Homo sapiens: one gene and its partner. The protein of the gene in region 1 interacts with the protein of each later gene in a pairwise test. Each region holds a gene or a part of one and is shown on either strand. Other genes may lie near its edges.

What was found. The genes of interacting proteins can lie anywhere in the genome.
Region 2: the proteins of CYP39A1 (region 1) and HERC3 interact in binary tests that used the Homo sapiens proteins (3 or more experiments, as listed by UniProt).

What each region holds. Positions count from the first base shown.
Region 1 is NC_000006.12:46,586,530-46,594,505, reverse strand, and holds part of CYP39A1 (24-hydroxycholesterol 7-alpha-hydroxylase), read left to right. Parts: intron 1-6,376; coding exon 6,377-6,472; intron 6,473-7,340; coding exon 7,341-7,429; intron 7,430-7,976. UniProt on the Homo sapiens protein: A cytochrome P450 monooxygenase involved in neural cholesterol clearance through bile acid synthesis. Catalyzes 7-alpha hydroxylation of (24S)-hydroxycholesterol, a neural oxysterol that is metabolized to bile acids in the liver.
Region 2 is NC_000004.12:88,587,736-88,596,136, reverse strand, and holds the start of HERC3 (probable E3 ubiquitin-protein ligase HERC3), read right to left. Parts: upstream 3,658-8,401; 5' UTR 3,563-3,657; intron 581-3,562; 5' UTR 523-580; intron 1-522. UniProt on the Homo sapiens protein: E3 ubiquitin-protein ligase which accepts ubiquitin from an E2 ubiquitin-conjugating enzyme in the form of a thioester and then directly transfers the ubiquitin to targeted substrates.

The DNA.
Region 1 (7,976 bases):
TGTATTTATTCTGGGGCTGTCTATTCTGTTCTATTGATCTATGTGCCTGGTTTTATGCCAGTACCATGCTGTTTTGATTACTGTAGCTTTATAATATATTTTGAAGTCAAATAGTGTGATGATTCAGGTTTTTTCTTTGTTCAAGGGTCTTTTGTAGTTTCATATGTTTTTTCTATTTCTGTAAAAATGTCATTAGAATTTTGATAGCATATATTATGTAATTTCTTGAATTCCATTGAGCACAAAATGACCCTAGAACAGGTTATTAATAAGAGTTGTGTAGCAATGTTTCATTAATATAGATATTTATCTTATGGCAAGTACTTTAAGTAAAACATAATAACCCTTTAATAATCATTCTGGCCATCTGATTCTGAATCAGAATCAATATAATCCTATTTAAATCAGGCAGGTGAATTGAATGGTCTCTTGTCTACTGATTCAACCAACATGAATTTCTTAGCACCAATGAGCTAAGGAATTCAGGATGTGAAGAAAGTTATTTTGCATAGCTGGAAGACAATTTTAGGCCACAGATTACAGATATGGGAACAGATAACAGGAATATATTGGATAATCTCAATTTATATTAGGAGGCAGCAGCTGAGTGAAGGTGAGAGGATTTTCTATGGACAAAGTAGGAGGAAATTCTCAAGTGCACCATGAAAGGGTATGTGCACATGGCAGACTTATTAGTTAAATATTTGTGAATCAATATGGCATAACAAATTATTTTTTTTGAAATGATTTGACTTAGGGCCTGCATTATCCAAATGGATCACATTTAATCAGTCCTCTACTATTGTTTGCTTTTTTATATGCAGCTTGAGAGTGCTTGGATTCAAACCAAGGAAATTTTGTAATAGAACACAGATAAAAATCCAAATTTTGTAAAAGTTGAAACTTTTGCTTCCAAAGGAGACATGATTTATTTAACTGACCTTATGTAAATTAGAGTATTTAGTTTTTGTGGGATTTCAACAGTTCATACTTTTATTTATTTTTATTTTATTTTAATTTTTTTGAGACAGGGTCTCTGTCACCAAGGCTGGAGTGCAGTGACACAATCTCAGCTCACTACAACCTACAAGTAGCTCTTCCACGGTCTTTTAACCTCATGTATTAGTCAGGATTATGTTATAAAGGGAGTTGTAACTTTTGTTGGGGCTATTAACCTCCCATATTCTTTCAAAAGTAATTTTACTTATTTTGACAACTTTGCCAGAAGAGATACCCATGCTCAAACACATGCACACAGATGTATACTCTTGCATGCACAATACCCCATCTGCACAACCTCTTAAATGTACTACCGCAACTATCTAATATTCTCTTTGTATGACATTAATATAGAAACCAAAGTTTCAGCATAGTGTAAATCTGTCATTAAAATTTTTTTAACACTAATTCTTCACTTTTTATGCATCTAGAGAGTTTTCACATTTATTTCAGTGGTCACATAATAGTCCATTTTCTTGAAAGCATAAATATTTAGTAGTTTTTGACTCTTCAGAATTTAGATTGTTTTACTTTGTGGTTATGTTAATGTGGTAATTATTTGCATCTCTGTTGCCCATGCTGGAGTGCAGTGACATGATCTTGGCTCACTGCAACCACCACCTCCCAGGTTCAAGCAATTCTCCTGCCTCAGCCTCCCAAGTAGCTGAGATTACAGGAGTGTGCCATCATGCCCAGTTGATTTTTGTATTTTTAGTAAAGCCAGGATTTCACCATGTTGGCCAGACTGGTCTGGAACTCCTGACCTCAGGTGATCTGCCCGCCTTGGCCTCCCAAAGTGCTGGGATTACAGGCATAAACGACCACGCTCAGCTGAAAAGTTTTCTGTTTTAATAAAACACATCTACACAATTTTGAATTGGTAGCAAAGTCATCTAATATATGGATATAGTATACATTTTTAAACTAGTCCCTGTTCTTGCATATGTATGTGGCTTCCAATTTTTCACTTCTATAAACAGTGTGAAGATGAACATCCTTTTAGCTAAATCCTTGTATACATTACTAATTATTTCCTTAGTATAAATTCATACAATTTGGTTCTTTCAAGATTCATATGTTTTCAAAAACAGGTGGAATGTTTTTGCTGAACTGAAGTTTAACGATATGTTCCCAGAAATTTGTATTTTAAAACACATTTCACATGGGCTTATCTATGTTGAGTAATGACAGAGGCTCATATTTTCTCCTCTGTTGGGCAACTGGTCAATGTTCCTTTTTATGCATACTAGAAGTATTCTCCCACCACCCTTCCCTAAGGTAGTTCGAACAGGCTCTCTTTGTTTGCTTTTGCCTCTGTGCCCTTTCCTGGAAATGGAATGAATTGAAATGGACGAACACTCTCTACTTTCTTGGATTTACTGCATTCTTTCTTTCTCTTTATTATGCTACCTTTCTAAAACTCTGAAACTTCTACCTGTGTTCTCTTTTCAAGGTTTTATATGTTTAGTAGAAAAGTTTATCTTCAAGAATATCCAGAAAAGAGTAACAAAAAAGAGTATTGGAAAAGATGAGTAATTGAGAAATATTAATTATCCTTTAAAACCTGTTATAAAGCCAAAAGAATTAAAATGTTATGATCCCGGTGTCAGACCAGATGTTCAGATCAATAGAAATAACTGGAAAGATAACAAAGAATTAGCTTCCTTATACATAATAATTTAATGTAGGATAAGTGACTCTTTTAATAAATCAATGTAAAGGGAAGAAATTAATATGTGGCTTGGGATGACTGACTAAAAGTGGGTTTTTTTTAAACTTCTTAAGTAGAAGTTCTCAAACTTTTTGGTTTCATGATCCCATCACACTCTTCAGAATTATTGAAGATCCCAAAGAGTTTTTGTCTATGTCTATTTTAAATCTATCAATATTAGCTATATTTTAAATTTAAACTGAGAAATTGTTAAAATATTAATTTGGTGATTCATTTAAAATAACAAAAACCTCTTACATGCTAACATGATACATAGTTTTCTAAAACATTAACTATATTTATTTTATAAAAAGAAGAGGACTGCCTGATTTTAAGATTAATCAATGAAGCCACAAAAAGGATAAACAGATTTGAATGTACCATAGCAAAATTTAATGTCTCATTTTTTAAAAGTGTAACTCAAATGTGAATATAATGTAAACATCAATATACAACACAACTATAAATAATTTTAATATTTAAAGAACTGACACAAATCAATAAGAATGAGTGTCACATAGGTTAATCAGGACAGAACATAAAAGTTTATAGGATAAAATAAATGGAAAAACTCTCAAACATAAAAATGTAAATGTAAAAACATAAAAATGTAAACCTAAAACAACCATTAGAAATGTTAGATTACAGATAAAAGGGTAATGAAACTTACATTCTCATAAATTATAGTTAGAAATATATTTTGCTACAAAATTTGAGGAAACAGTTGAATAACATGCATTTATAGCCTTAAAATATGCATGTCCTGTGTCATCTGAACATCTGTGTTAACAGAATCTATGTGGAAAAATGCTGTGTGGAAGAAAGTGCTTATGGTGGCACTATTTACCACAGGAAAAAAAGTAGGGAATGATTACATTAATTATTGTTTAATGTACCCAATGGAAGATTAAACAGTCATTGGAGGAAGAAATATTCACCATGAATATACAATAAAAAGGGAAAACAGGTTATGAAGTTAAGAGAACTAAGAAAGATTAAATTGGTTATTCAGGAGGATCAAAACTATGTTTAAAGTTTAACAACAACAAAATATCTCCTATTAATACTAAGTAAACATACTGGAAAGAAATCTAGCTAGTTAATGACTGTCTTTGGGTGTCAGAACTCTGGATTTTCTTTTCTAGTTTTTCTGCTTTTCAGAATTTTCCAAACTTTTTGTAGAGATAAGTTTTTATCATACAAAAGAATATACTCTTTAATTTAAAAAATACTTATTTTGTTTTTATTTTTTTTCGGCACAAACACCAACCAAGCCTCTGGTTGAAAGCTAGGAGAAAAGGCTGTGTGCTTTAGACCTCCTGCTATAGATGTGTTGCCTCTGGACTCCTCCTTTCTCTTTAAGATTATGTATTCCTGGCACCCACTTAGCTCTGAGCACCTTTCTTGAATTACAACACAGAGTCCTGCCTTCTCTTCCTTTTTTAAAGAAAGCCCCACTTCTAGATTATCAGATGAAGCTTGTTTTGGCTTCACACCATCCAGGTGAGGTGGGCTGGCCAGGCTCAATTCTGTCTACCTGAGAGATGCAGTTCTTGCAACACACAGAAGTTGTAGCTTCCCTTTGCTAGTGATCTGTGTTCTCATTCTGCAACTGTTTTGCCTCCCTCTTGATCTTTCACTTCATCTGTCATGTAAGTAAAGATAGGGACTGTTTAGGCTGGGCGTGATGATGTCTGCTTGCTCAGAGGGTTTCTTGACAGAACCAGCTCCAGCATTCATTCCTTCATGCTATTTATCAGTCTGGCAGTTGCTGCTGCTGCAACAGGCACCTCTTTCTTGTCTCCTCCCTGTTGCTAGTGGTAATTCTGTTACTGAGGACCTGTATGAAGTTCTCCTCCCTTTGCTAACCTGCTTTATAGGCTACAACAGTCAGCAGCCTCCAAGTCATGATCACAGGTCAACAGCAACTTAAGAGGACTTTGCGGTGGGAAGGGGAAGGGCTGTGGTTGTCCTGACTGAAGGCCCATCCCTGTGCTGCCCCCAACCCTGCTCTCAAATACACATCACGGCCCTCTGTGGCTGATTCCAGAGTCAGTAATGACCTCTCTAGCCTCAGTTCCAATGGAAGTAAAACAGACAGGATTGGGATCTCACAGGTCTCTCTATTTTAAAATGATAGAAGGTACCTGCAAAAGCTTCACTGTCTTCCCAGTCTTGGATTTGAGTCTCTCCAGCTCTCCCAGTTCTGAAATTGCCAAATCTCAAGCAATACTCAGCTGCCACTAGAGCCAACAGGGGTTCTCCTGGGTTAAAAAAATGATGACATCCCTACCCATACTCCACTCATAGCTACCAGTAAAAGACATATTTTTATTTTTCTTCGAGACAGAATGTCACTCTGTCTCCCAGGCTAGAGTACAGTGGCACAATCATAGCTCACTGTACCCTCAACCTCCTGGGCTCAAGCAATCCTCCTGTCTCAACCACCCAAGTAGCTGAGACTACAGGTGCACCATCATCCCCAGCTAATATTTTTCATTTTTTTGTAGAGACAAGGTCTTCCTATGTTGCCTAGGCTGGTCTCAAACTCCTGAGCTCAAAGGATCCTCCGACCAAGGCCTCCCAAAGTGCTAGGATTACAGGCATGAGCCACCACACCCAGCAGAAGACATGTTTTTAATTGTAAGGTGTTTATGCTTTGGATAAGTAAACCTAAAGTAAAAGTTTTTCAAATATCTTGAGGACATTTCAAAATTATACACGGTTAAATAGATGTGGCTTATGATGATGGGCAGTGGGAATTACCTAATAAAATATCTCTACCTTAGTAAAGTTGGTAGCTATCTAGCAATTATAAAACTTGGGAGATCTCTTTGTCCTGTGATTCCTGAACATGGTGATGATAGGGAGATTTTGTGAAATGGGTTTTAGTTCTTTGTATAGTTTATAGATCATGAAAATCTGTTGTCATATGAATCAGGAAGGATAATGTAGACTACCTGAGGAAACACATTGTTTATCCTCATTTCCACAAGCACTGTGACCCCAAACACAAACCCAACCAAACAAATACACAACACTTGCCTTTTCCTGTGTCTTCCTAACCAGTCGTTTTTCATTTGTTTCTTTCCTAATAACCGGTGCTGGACTGAGGAAAGAAAAGTCCACTGCCCCTGCTCTAACACTGTCATTAGTATCCACAAGAACAGGACATCCTCTGCCCCTCTTCTCAGTGCTACCATGGCCATTGTCCCTGTCTCAGAGTCCAATTTTTCTGTTTCATAACCTGAGCCTCCACTGTAGTTTCTGCCTTCAAGAACTCTGGCCACAAACCCTAATATCAAACATCAAAAGGTACATTAGAAGGGACTTATACTAGTTTCTAAAATTTTGACATTTAGCTAATATTTCCTTCCATATAACTGAATATATGTACATGTGAATCAGAATTATATAATTTCCTCTATGTAACCAAATATATGTATATGGAAATCAGAATTATATAGATACTATATTATTAGATTTTATATTATTTATAATTAGATATTATATAATTATATAGATATTAAAAATTAGATTTTCTCACATTCAATTATAAAAGGTATATCTTCACCACAATATAATTGTAGCATCATTTTTAGTGGCCCAAATTCTCTTTAAAGTATATTTCAAAAAAATGATTTGCAGCTGATTTTTCTGTTATAGAATTACATCATTCCTTCTGGTGACTTGTTGATGTTGTCTCCATTTTGGCTGCATAGAAATCCAAAGTATTTTCCTGAGCCTGAATTGTTCAAACCTGTAAGTTATCTCTTTCAGTATATATTATTCTTTCATTTTAATTTCTTTTTATTTCAGAAGGGTAAATTCAGAAATTAATTAGGACTATATAATTAAGCAGCCATATTTCTCTCGTAACTAAGAACAAAGTTGACTACAAAGTACAGAACAGATTTGCAATATAGATAGTGCAACATTTACAAATCAGTTAGAAAAGTTTTTGTAGTAAACTTCTCTAACTTTAAAATACATTTTACATGAAACCAGAAGGGCATGTTCAAGTGAATAAGCCTGTTTTTGATAGAAGACTTATTTCATGTTCTTCAGGCAATTGCTTCTGTCATTGGTTTCCAAGGAGTACAAAAAAATACAAATAAAGCAAATTAAAACCGTGATCTGCTGTTTCTTAGAACTGGAAAGTTACAGGGCCGAACAGAATGTTAAGAGGTCATTTAGTCTGTTCTCTGCCTTTAGGTAAAACTGTCAAAAATGGCATCCAGATGCATTCATTCTGCATCCCAAGCTTTTTCTAACAGGCAGGGATGTCAGTGTCTTACTACTAAATTTATTACCAAGAGCAATTTTATGACGGAGCCTGAGACCTTATTATAAATATTCTTCCTCTTCTTAGGTCAATTCTGTGGTTGATTTACCTTATCATTTACATTTACCACTTAACAGAATTTTTTAAAAACCTTTTTATTTATAAGTTCATGTTCCAGAAACACAATTGTGTCTAATATTAATAACAGGGTGGAAAAAATTACCAACAACCCTGCAACTTTATATGCAAGGATTAGCTGTACAAGGTCATTTTTAGCCTAGAGAAATAAAGTTAAGCTTATTTATATAAGGCTGATTTGGAAAAAAAAATGTTTTCTTCCCACAGGAACGTTGGAAAAAGGCAAATTTAGAGAAGCACTCTTTCTTGGACTGCTTCATGGCATTTGGAAGCGGGAAGTTCCAGTGTCCTGCAAGGTCAGTGAGACAGCTGGGCCACATTTATCCAGAAAGTCTGCAGAAAGATGATGGCTCAGAGGGGAACAACTTTGGCTTAATCTCTTTATATATATATTTAAACTATAGGGAAATCCAGAAGAACACATTTTGTCTGGTTTATCTGTGGTCCTGTGCAGTGTCTCTCTGGGAATATCTAAAGTGGCTTCTGATAGAAGACCTTATGAGAAGAGAACATTACACTTGCCAGATGCCACATCAAAGCAGCGTTTATGGTTCAAATTGTCAGCTTTCACACAAACATAATTGGAAGTGGTTTGAGTGCTACCTTCTTTAAAAACAAAGATAGAATTATATTTCTTTCACTATGACATTGTCATGGATATTTGCTAGGGTTCTAGAAAATCTTTGGCTTGGAGCATAGCAGGCACTTACTAGGTGGTTTTTGTCTATGGTGTTAGTTTGGCTTGTGAAAACTTTCTTTTGATACCTTTTATAGTTAAATTAATCTGGCACCCAGCCCTCCTCCTCAGTGTGATACCCTGTTCTAATGCAAGTGTCCATTGTT
Region 2 (8,401 bases), on another chromosome or scaffold:
TGGCTCACGCCTGTAATCCTAACACTTTGGAAGGCCGAGGCAGGCGGATCACGAGGTCAGGAGATCAAGACCATCCTGGCTAACACAGTGAAACCCCGTCTCTACTAAAAATACAAAAAATTAGCTGGGCGAGGTGGTGGGCACCTGTAGTCCCAGCTACTCGGGAGGCTGAGGCAGGAGAATGGCATGAACCCCGGGGGGCGGAGCCTGCAGTGAGCCGAGATCCCGCCACTGCACTCCAGCGTGGGCGACAGCCAGACTCCCTCTCAAAAAAAAAAAAAAAAAAAAAAAAAAAGAATTAAGTGCTTGAAGCAGAGACCAGAAACCAGGTCTCCTACTTCTTGGGCTCACCTTGTTCTCTTCACTATCTTAGAGCAGCAGGAAGGCACTGAGATTTGTTTAGGTCCCTCTCTAGGTAGCTACCCTAGCTTGAGTTGATGAGAGTATTAAACAGGATAATGCATGTAAAGGACTCCATTTACAAGATGAAAAACTGAGGTCCAGAAAAATTAAGTAACTCACCACAGGTCACACACTTGGCATTGGACTAGAAGCCAGAAATATTCCACACCTTGCAGTTCTGCAAGTTAAAGAAATAATAAATAACATTAGTATGGAACTCTGTTGTGTCTTCATGTTACTGTAAACAAAAAGACAGGAGTTAACCTCTGAAAATAAGAATATCTTTAAATTACTCAATCTTGAATATTCCCCACGCATTGTATCTCAAGACAGGAGTTTGGTTAAATACCAGTAAGATAACCTCTAACCAGTTATAAAGACATCAATCACCTCTAAAAGTGAACTAGAGATATAGATATCACCTTATAAAAATTCCTGACATTTGATAGGGAGTAGTAAAAATGGAATTACTTTAAAATCTCCCATTTTTGTTAGAGAAAATTTTGGAAAATAATTAAATTTTGTCTATTTTCTTTATTTTTCCATGTATGACACATAGCAGCTTGTTTTGCCACAACTGTTATGAAGACTGTCTCCTTTCATTCCTTTTCTTTTTTTTTTTTTTTTTTTTTTTGAGACAGAGTCTGGCTCTTTCACCCAGGCTGGAGTGCAGTGGCCGATCTCGGCTCACTGCAACCTCTGCCTCCCAGGTTCAAGCGATTCTCCTGCCTCAGCCTCCCAAGTAGCTGGAATTACAGGCGCCCGCCACCACGCCCAGCTAATTTTTCTATTTTTAGTAGAGAAGGGGTTTCACCATGTTGGTCAGGCTGGTCTCCAACTCCTGACCTCAAGTGATCCACCCGTCTCAAGCCGCCCAAAGTGCTGGGATTACAGGTGTGAGCCACTGCGCCCAGCCAGTCACTGCACCCGGTCTTTCCCTTTTCATTACCACATCCTCCATCATGCAAAATGAGAAGAGATCATCTCAGAGAGATACCTAAAGTATCTCAAAAGAAAAAGTCCTCCATGATTTTAAGATATTTTTGTCAAGCACTTTAGGAGGCCCAGGCGGGTGGACAGCCTGAGCCCAGGGGTTGGAGATCAGCCTGAGCAACATGGCAAAACCCCGTTTCGTCTTTTGGCGAAACCAAAAACTACAAAAAATTAGCTGGGCATGGTGGTGCACGCCTGTGGTCCCAGCTACTTTGGAGGGTAAGGTGGCAGATTCGCTTGAGCCTGGGAGGCGGAGGTTGCAGTGAGCCGAGATCGCACCAGTGCACTCCAGCCTGTGCAACAGAGCGAGACCCCCCATCTCGAAAGAAAAGATATTGTCATAACTTTATTTCTACCTCTCTATGCAGAAAATCCCATTCGATCTGGAGAATAGTACTTTTACTTATAAAACTGAAGCATAACTATCTTGTGTCTCCAGTAGGGGTACTACTACTCTCATTAAGTATAAAAAAAGTTTTTAATTGGTCATACAAATCTTAAGAAATTTAAATTTGGTCTTCAGAATGAAATGCTATAACGAATGGCTTCAAGCACACAACATGGAACATTCTGAAATCCCTGTTTCTTTTTCAAAAAGTAAACTCCAGCTACTTACTGAACAAGAACTGGATGCTAGTGCTAATGTGCTAATTTTGTTTTTCATGCCAAAGGAGTTCTGCCAAAGAGGTTTCTAACCTGTCCTCCTTGTTCCCTGCATTATACTTTTTACAGAAAGTTCCTAGCCTCGAAGGCGGTACGACCATGATGTAAAATATGTAATTCAATTATTTTGCTTTAGGATATGCAATCCATGTACTTTGCTTTTCTGATTTATAATGCTACTCCCTCCTCCCCCAGGGTAAAGGAAAGTACAAAAGGAGAGAGCTTCACAGTAATCTGCCGACTAAAACATGATACCCGATCACCGCATTTAAAACTTTTTATTTTTTCATTTCTCTCAAGTCTAGAGTTGAAAAATCAGCTCACTTGATCTTATCTAATCATCAAATAAAAGGTTCTAGAAATAGCTTCTTATTTGTGGAAAGAGCCAGAAGACACATACAAATGGAAGAGAGCTCTTGAATCGTCTTTCCCAAAGCATTCTATGCGTGATGAATGCAAGCAAAATCCTGGAAGGCTTTTCTCTGAATTAGGTACTTCCTAATTGAGCTCATTTGAAAGCTGATGTAAAATGCAATCAGAAAGCAGCCAGAAACAGTGACAGACCAACAGCAAAGTTCAAATACTTATTCCCTGGAGCTCATGCTGCATACACATATTCCGTGCACAGTCGCATTAGGTACTGTCTCCATAGGCTCACCTGTTTCAGGTTACACATGCTCCTCTCGGTCTGGTTGCCCTGGTTTGCCCACTCCACACATTCACAAATGACTCAAGTCTCACCTGCCCCCGGCCGTCCCAGCTCCTGACACCCCCGCGTCGGTCCGCACCGACGTGTCGGCGTACACACACACACACACCCGTACACACGTGTCCGCACACACCCTCGCCCCCGGCCCCGCCCAGGAGGCGGACCCGGGAGAGGCGAGCCGGCCCGGCCTCCGCGAAGTGGGTGGTGCCGGGCCCCGCAGCCCTGCCGGCGCTGTCATCGCGGACGCCGTGCACCGCGTCCTCGGCGCAAACTCCTCGCGGCCGCTGAGGTTCCCCAAAATGCCAGGGCCTCGCCAGCTCCCATTTCAATTGAAAGCGTCCGCGCCCCTCACTGCACGGAGGTCCCTGGAACCCCAGAATTTAAATAGGGGCAGGGGGCGAGCATAGGGACTATCCTCCTTTTGACTTTCTGCGTCGCAATTCCTCCCGGGCGGCAGGGCGGGAGGGCGGCCGAGCGCGGGCGGGAGGCGCTCCCATTTTGAAGGCTTGTCTCGCCTTTCCCGGCGCGGGGCTCTCTGACCGGAGGGCGAGCCCACGAGAACGCCAGGGAGGCGTACGCAGGGTACTAAGGGCGCCGCGCCCCAACCTCCCCGCGCCCCAGACCCAGGTCGTCTCTGGAGGTGCCTGCAGCCCCCGCCGCCGGAGCCACGGGAGGAGCCGCAGCCGCCCCTCCGGGAGCCGCGCGCTGACTGCAGTGCCAGGCGGAACGCGGCCCAGCGCGGCTGCAGCTCCGCCGTACCCCCCTCCCTGGAACCCCGGCCCCCGCCCTGCGCACCTCGGCAGCAGCCGAACCGCAGCTTGGGACTCCGACTGTCACAGCCCCTCTCGCCGGACCCGGGGTTTCTCCGTTTTCGGCGTCACAATAATAAGGAAGTTTCCCCGCAAGCCTGCGGGCGGCGGAATGCGCTGGGTGAATGGCTTCGCACCGGGCCAATGGGCGCCGTTCTGGGATGGGCCCGCGCCAATGGCGGCCGCCGTGGCACGGGCTGGAGGCGGGGCGGCAAGGTCCGCGGGCAGGAGGAGGGGAGAGGCCCAGGCCCCAGAGCCAGGCGCAGGCTGCCCGAGGTGACAGGACTCGAGGGCCCGGCGCGGGGACAGCGGCACGGGTGTGTCAGCCGAAATCGGACTGCAAGACATAGAGCGTTGACGCTGAAATAAGATTGCTTTTCACTGGCGGGGAAGCGAGCTGGACCGATCAGCGGTTGCCTATTCAGGTTCTGGACTCTGGTTTTTATTATTTATGAAGAGGTGACCGAAAGCCTTGGGCACGGGGGAAAAAGCTGGAGGGTGACAATTGAGGGAGAGTGCGCTAGTCTTCTGCTTTACTCCCCTTCGTAGGACTGTAGGAAGCGCGGCGCCGGCCCGCGGCGCTGCGCGGTGGGAGAGGCGGGGAAGGAGGTACGCGGCAGCCGCCGGCGCTCTTCTGGAGAGGTGGGGATCGAAGACCGGCACGGGGCTGCGGAAGAAAGGCGGGCCTGGGGGAGGCTGGAGGGTGGACCCGGGGGGAGCATAGCAAGAAGAGTCTGAGCACCAGATCTTAAAATCTTGTAATCTGAAAGACACTCTGTGGCCTATACCCAGTAACGGATTTTTTAAAAGTTTGTCCTCTTCCACTTTTCCCTAGCGCCGAATCCCAGAGCTTCCTCCCCCTCCCCAAGGTCACTAGTGCTTTCATACTTGCCCTAGACCTGATCTGATCCACAGCTAATCTTTTGCAGAAAACCTCAGAAAGGTGACTTCATGTGTCTGCCCCCCTTAAATGTAAAATGCAGAACACTGGCACGGTACTGCTTTAATCCAAAGGAATAACTCTCCCAGTGGAAGAATTTCTATAACCTGGCATTTGAAGCAGGAAGGCCCTTTGAGGATAGATTCTTACCAAGGACATTCAAATCACCTCAGGTCTGCAATCGCTCGTCCTGAGAACCTAACAGACTGACCAAGTAGAAAAGAAAGTTTCAAGGAGTGGTGTATCCTGGGGATGAGACGTTGTTGGCTGACTGACAGTGTTGAGCCCTCCGTGAAATAATGCAAATTGTCCAGTACACTGAGACAAGAAAGCTAAAAAAGCAGAATCTAAGTTATCAGGTCATCTAAGAAAAAATCCAAACCTTTGAAATTTGGATCACACTTGACACGTTTAGAAACACTGGGGATGGCCAGGCGCGGTGGCCCATGCCTGTAATCTCGGCACTTTGGGAGGCCGAAGCCGGTGGATCACTTGAGGTCAGCAGTTCGAGACCAGCCTGGCCAACATGGTGAAACCTTGTCTCTACAAAAAAAAATACCAAAATTAGCCGAGTAGGGTGGTGTGCGCCTGTAGTCCCAGCTACTCAGGAGGCTGAGGCAGGAGAATCACTGGAACCTGGAAGGCGGAGGTTGCAGTAAGCTGAAATCAAGCCACTGTACTTACTCCAGCCTGGGCAACAGAATGAAACGTTGTCTCAAAAAAAAAAAAAAAAGAAAGAAAAAGGAAAAAAGAAACACTGGGGACAAGAGTAACACAATTCACTTATATTCCAGATATGTGGCAGTTTCACAAAAGTTTAGTCTATTACAAAGATGCAATCCCAATTTAGAGATGCTGTTGGCAAAAGAACTGGTTAAATGCCCAAAGAGGAGTCTGGTAGGAAGACGAAGGAGTCCGGTACTTGCAAAGGAGAAAGTGAGAGATCCTATTGTTAGGTGTCACATATGAGGTTTGTAATCAATCAGTGTTTGGGTTGATATGTCTGGCCCATGGCTCAAGTGTTTTTCTTTTTTTGTTGTTGTTTTTTTGTTTTTTGTTTTTGAGACGGAGTCTCGCTCTGTCGCCCAGGCTGGAGTGCAGTGGCGCAAACTCGGCTCCCTGCAAGCTGCGCCTCCCGGATTCACGCAAGTCTCCTGTCGCAGCCTCCTGAGTAACTGGGACTACAGGCGCCCACCACAACGCCCGGCTAATTTTTGTATTTTCAGTAGAGACGGGGTTTCACCATGTTAGCCAGGATGGTCTCAATCTCCTGACCTCGTGATCCGCCCACCTCGGCCTCCCAAAGTGCTGGGATTACAGGCGTGAGCCACCGCGCCCGGAGTTTGTTTTTTTGAGAAGGAGTCTCGCTCAGTTGCCTGGGATGGAGTGCAGTGGCGCGATCTCTGCTCACTGCAACATCCACCTCCCCGGCTCAAGCAATTCTCCTGCCTCAGCCTCCCGAGTAGCTGGGATTACAGGCGCTCACCACCACACCCGGCTCATTTTTGTACTTTTAGTAGAGGCGGGATTTCACCATGTTGGCCAGGCCGGTTTAGAACTCCTGACCTCAAATCATCTGCCCACCTCGGCCTCCCAAAGTGCTGAGATTACAGGCGTGAGCCTCCGTGCCGGCCGGCTCAAGTGTTTTTCATATGAAATTTCATCTTGAGGAAAAGGATGGTTATCAAAGACTCAAGCCTAGAAATGGGATAGGAGCAATGTATAAATAACAAGTTAGGATACTGTAAGCTTCTTTTACCAAATAAATAGCCAAACCCTGAGAACTTACATAGAACTTACATAGAACAGTAAAGATACCACAGTACTTCGATTTATTTTTTTTCATTGGGACAACATATAATGACAATTTCCTTAGCAAGCATGTCCTGCTTCAAAATGGCTTTAAATGGCTCCAGCATCAGCAATAGTCTTAACAGCAGATACGTAAACTGTTTTGAAGAGGCCATGGTTTACTTTTTCCTTCCATTTCTATAGCCCTGTCTTCCATCCATTTCTTTCTGCATTCTCATATATTCTCTAACAAACGTACTATATACTGAGCACCTACAATAATGTCAGCCCCTGTGAATACATTGGTAAGCAAAACAGTACAGTCTTTGTTGCCATGAAAGGGGAGACAAACATTAACCAAATAATTGTACCAAGGAATATATACTTGCTAACCTGTATAAATTTTATAAAAGAAAAACATTCATGTTAAAAATAAAAGGCTTAATAAATTCTAGGCTCATGCCCCTGTAATCCCAGGGCTTTGGGTTACAGGCTGAGGCAAGAGCATCGCTTGAGGCCAGGAGTTTGAGACCAGCCTGTGCAACATAGTGAGTCCCTGTCTCTCCAAAAAATAAAAATAGGCATGGTGGGGCACGCCTTTAGTCCTAGCTACTTGGGAGGCTGAGGTGAGAGAATAGCTTGAGCATAGGAATTCGAGGTTGCATTGAGCTTTGATGGCACCACTGCACTCCAGCCTGGATGACAGAGGAGACTCCAAATACACACACACACACGCACACACGCGTGCACATACACACACACACACACATATAACCATAACTTTTTTTTTAAGAGACAGGATCTTGCTATGTTGCCCAGGCTGGCTTCAAACTCCTAGACTCAAGCAATCCTGCTGCCTTAGCCTCCCGAGGAGCAAGGATTAAACTAACCATAACTTTTGACAGGGGGACAGGACCATGTGGTTCAGCTCTATCACTGGTTAGACAAGGTATGCCCAGTGGCAAGGGGATGGTGCCCAGGGCTGCTGCACTTCTACCTGAACACATGCTGATTTCCTCCATTAGTTACCATTCACTTCTTAAAATACATCTATTTTCAAATGAAACCATTTTTCAATAGAATGGTAATACTGTTTAATGATAATTGTTTTCCTTTCTTCCCTTTGTTTAATTTACTTGCCTTGCAGACAAATATTTACTTGGTAAACTTTGAAAGAGATAGATTTCTGATATCTTGGATGAAATCTGTGGAAAAAAACAGGCTACCCAGGACATTCTGTCTCTCAGATACACCATTGAAGAATAAATATCTTTAGGAGGGAAAAGCACTGACTGATTATTTGACAAGTAAAAAGTATGTGTACCTTGTATGGTTATGTAATGACAAAGGTGTTTCTTGGTCCCCCACGTCCAAAAGAAGTACTTACTTTCTCAGTCTAGTCAGTACTTAATGGAAAAATCAGTCTATCTATACCCAGACTAAACTTATTAAAAACTGTCCTGTAACACACAGCATTGATTTATTAATATGAAACAACTTAGAATAAAAACATTATGGTAAATCAGTATTACCATCAAATAATCTTTTAATATTATTGAATATGTTCCACCTGTAGTACTGCTAGACAAGAAGCATCATTCCTGACTACAAAGAGCTTACAGCCCTTATGATTATTTCTCTATCTTCCTTGAAACTATTCATGGTTTGTTTGCATTTTTTTCTTATCAAGCCATTTGGATGAAGCATAAGAATCTTACCTTAATTATGAGAAACTCATTGTTTTCATATAAATTAAAATGTATTAATGATAACAGGATTGGATGGTTGAACATTTTCTAAGAAAACCTTTAAGTTGAGCATTAGCTGGTCTCTGAAGATTTCATCCAATAAAGCCTTTAGGAAGTGAAGTATTTCGTGAAGGTTCCTCCTTTTAAAAAGTCCCTTAATATGTGCTCTTAGAAATGGCATCCCACATTTCACTATGACTGGACTGGCAAAATAAGTGCTTGGGCAAAAGCAGCAAAGATCACGTTTGTCATCATGTAGCTGCACAGAATACATGCATGTAACTGCCAAAAATCAGGCAGCTGTCTCACCCTTCTAGAGGCAAAGAAACATAGTCTTCCAAAATTT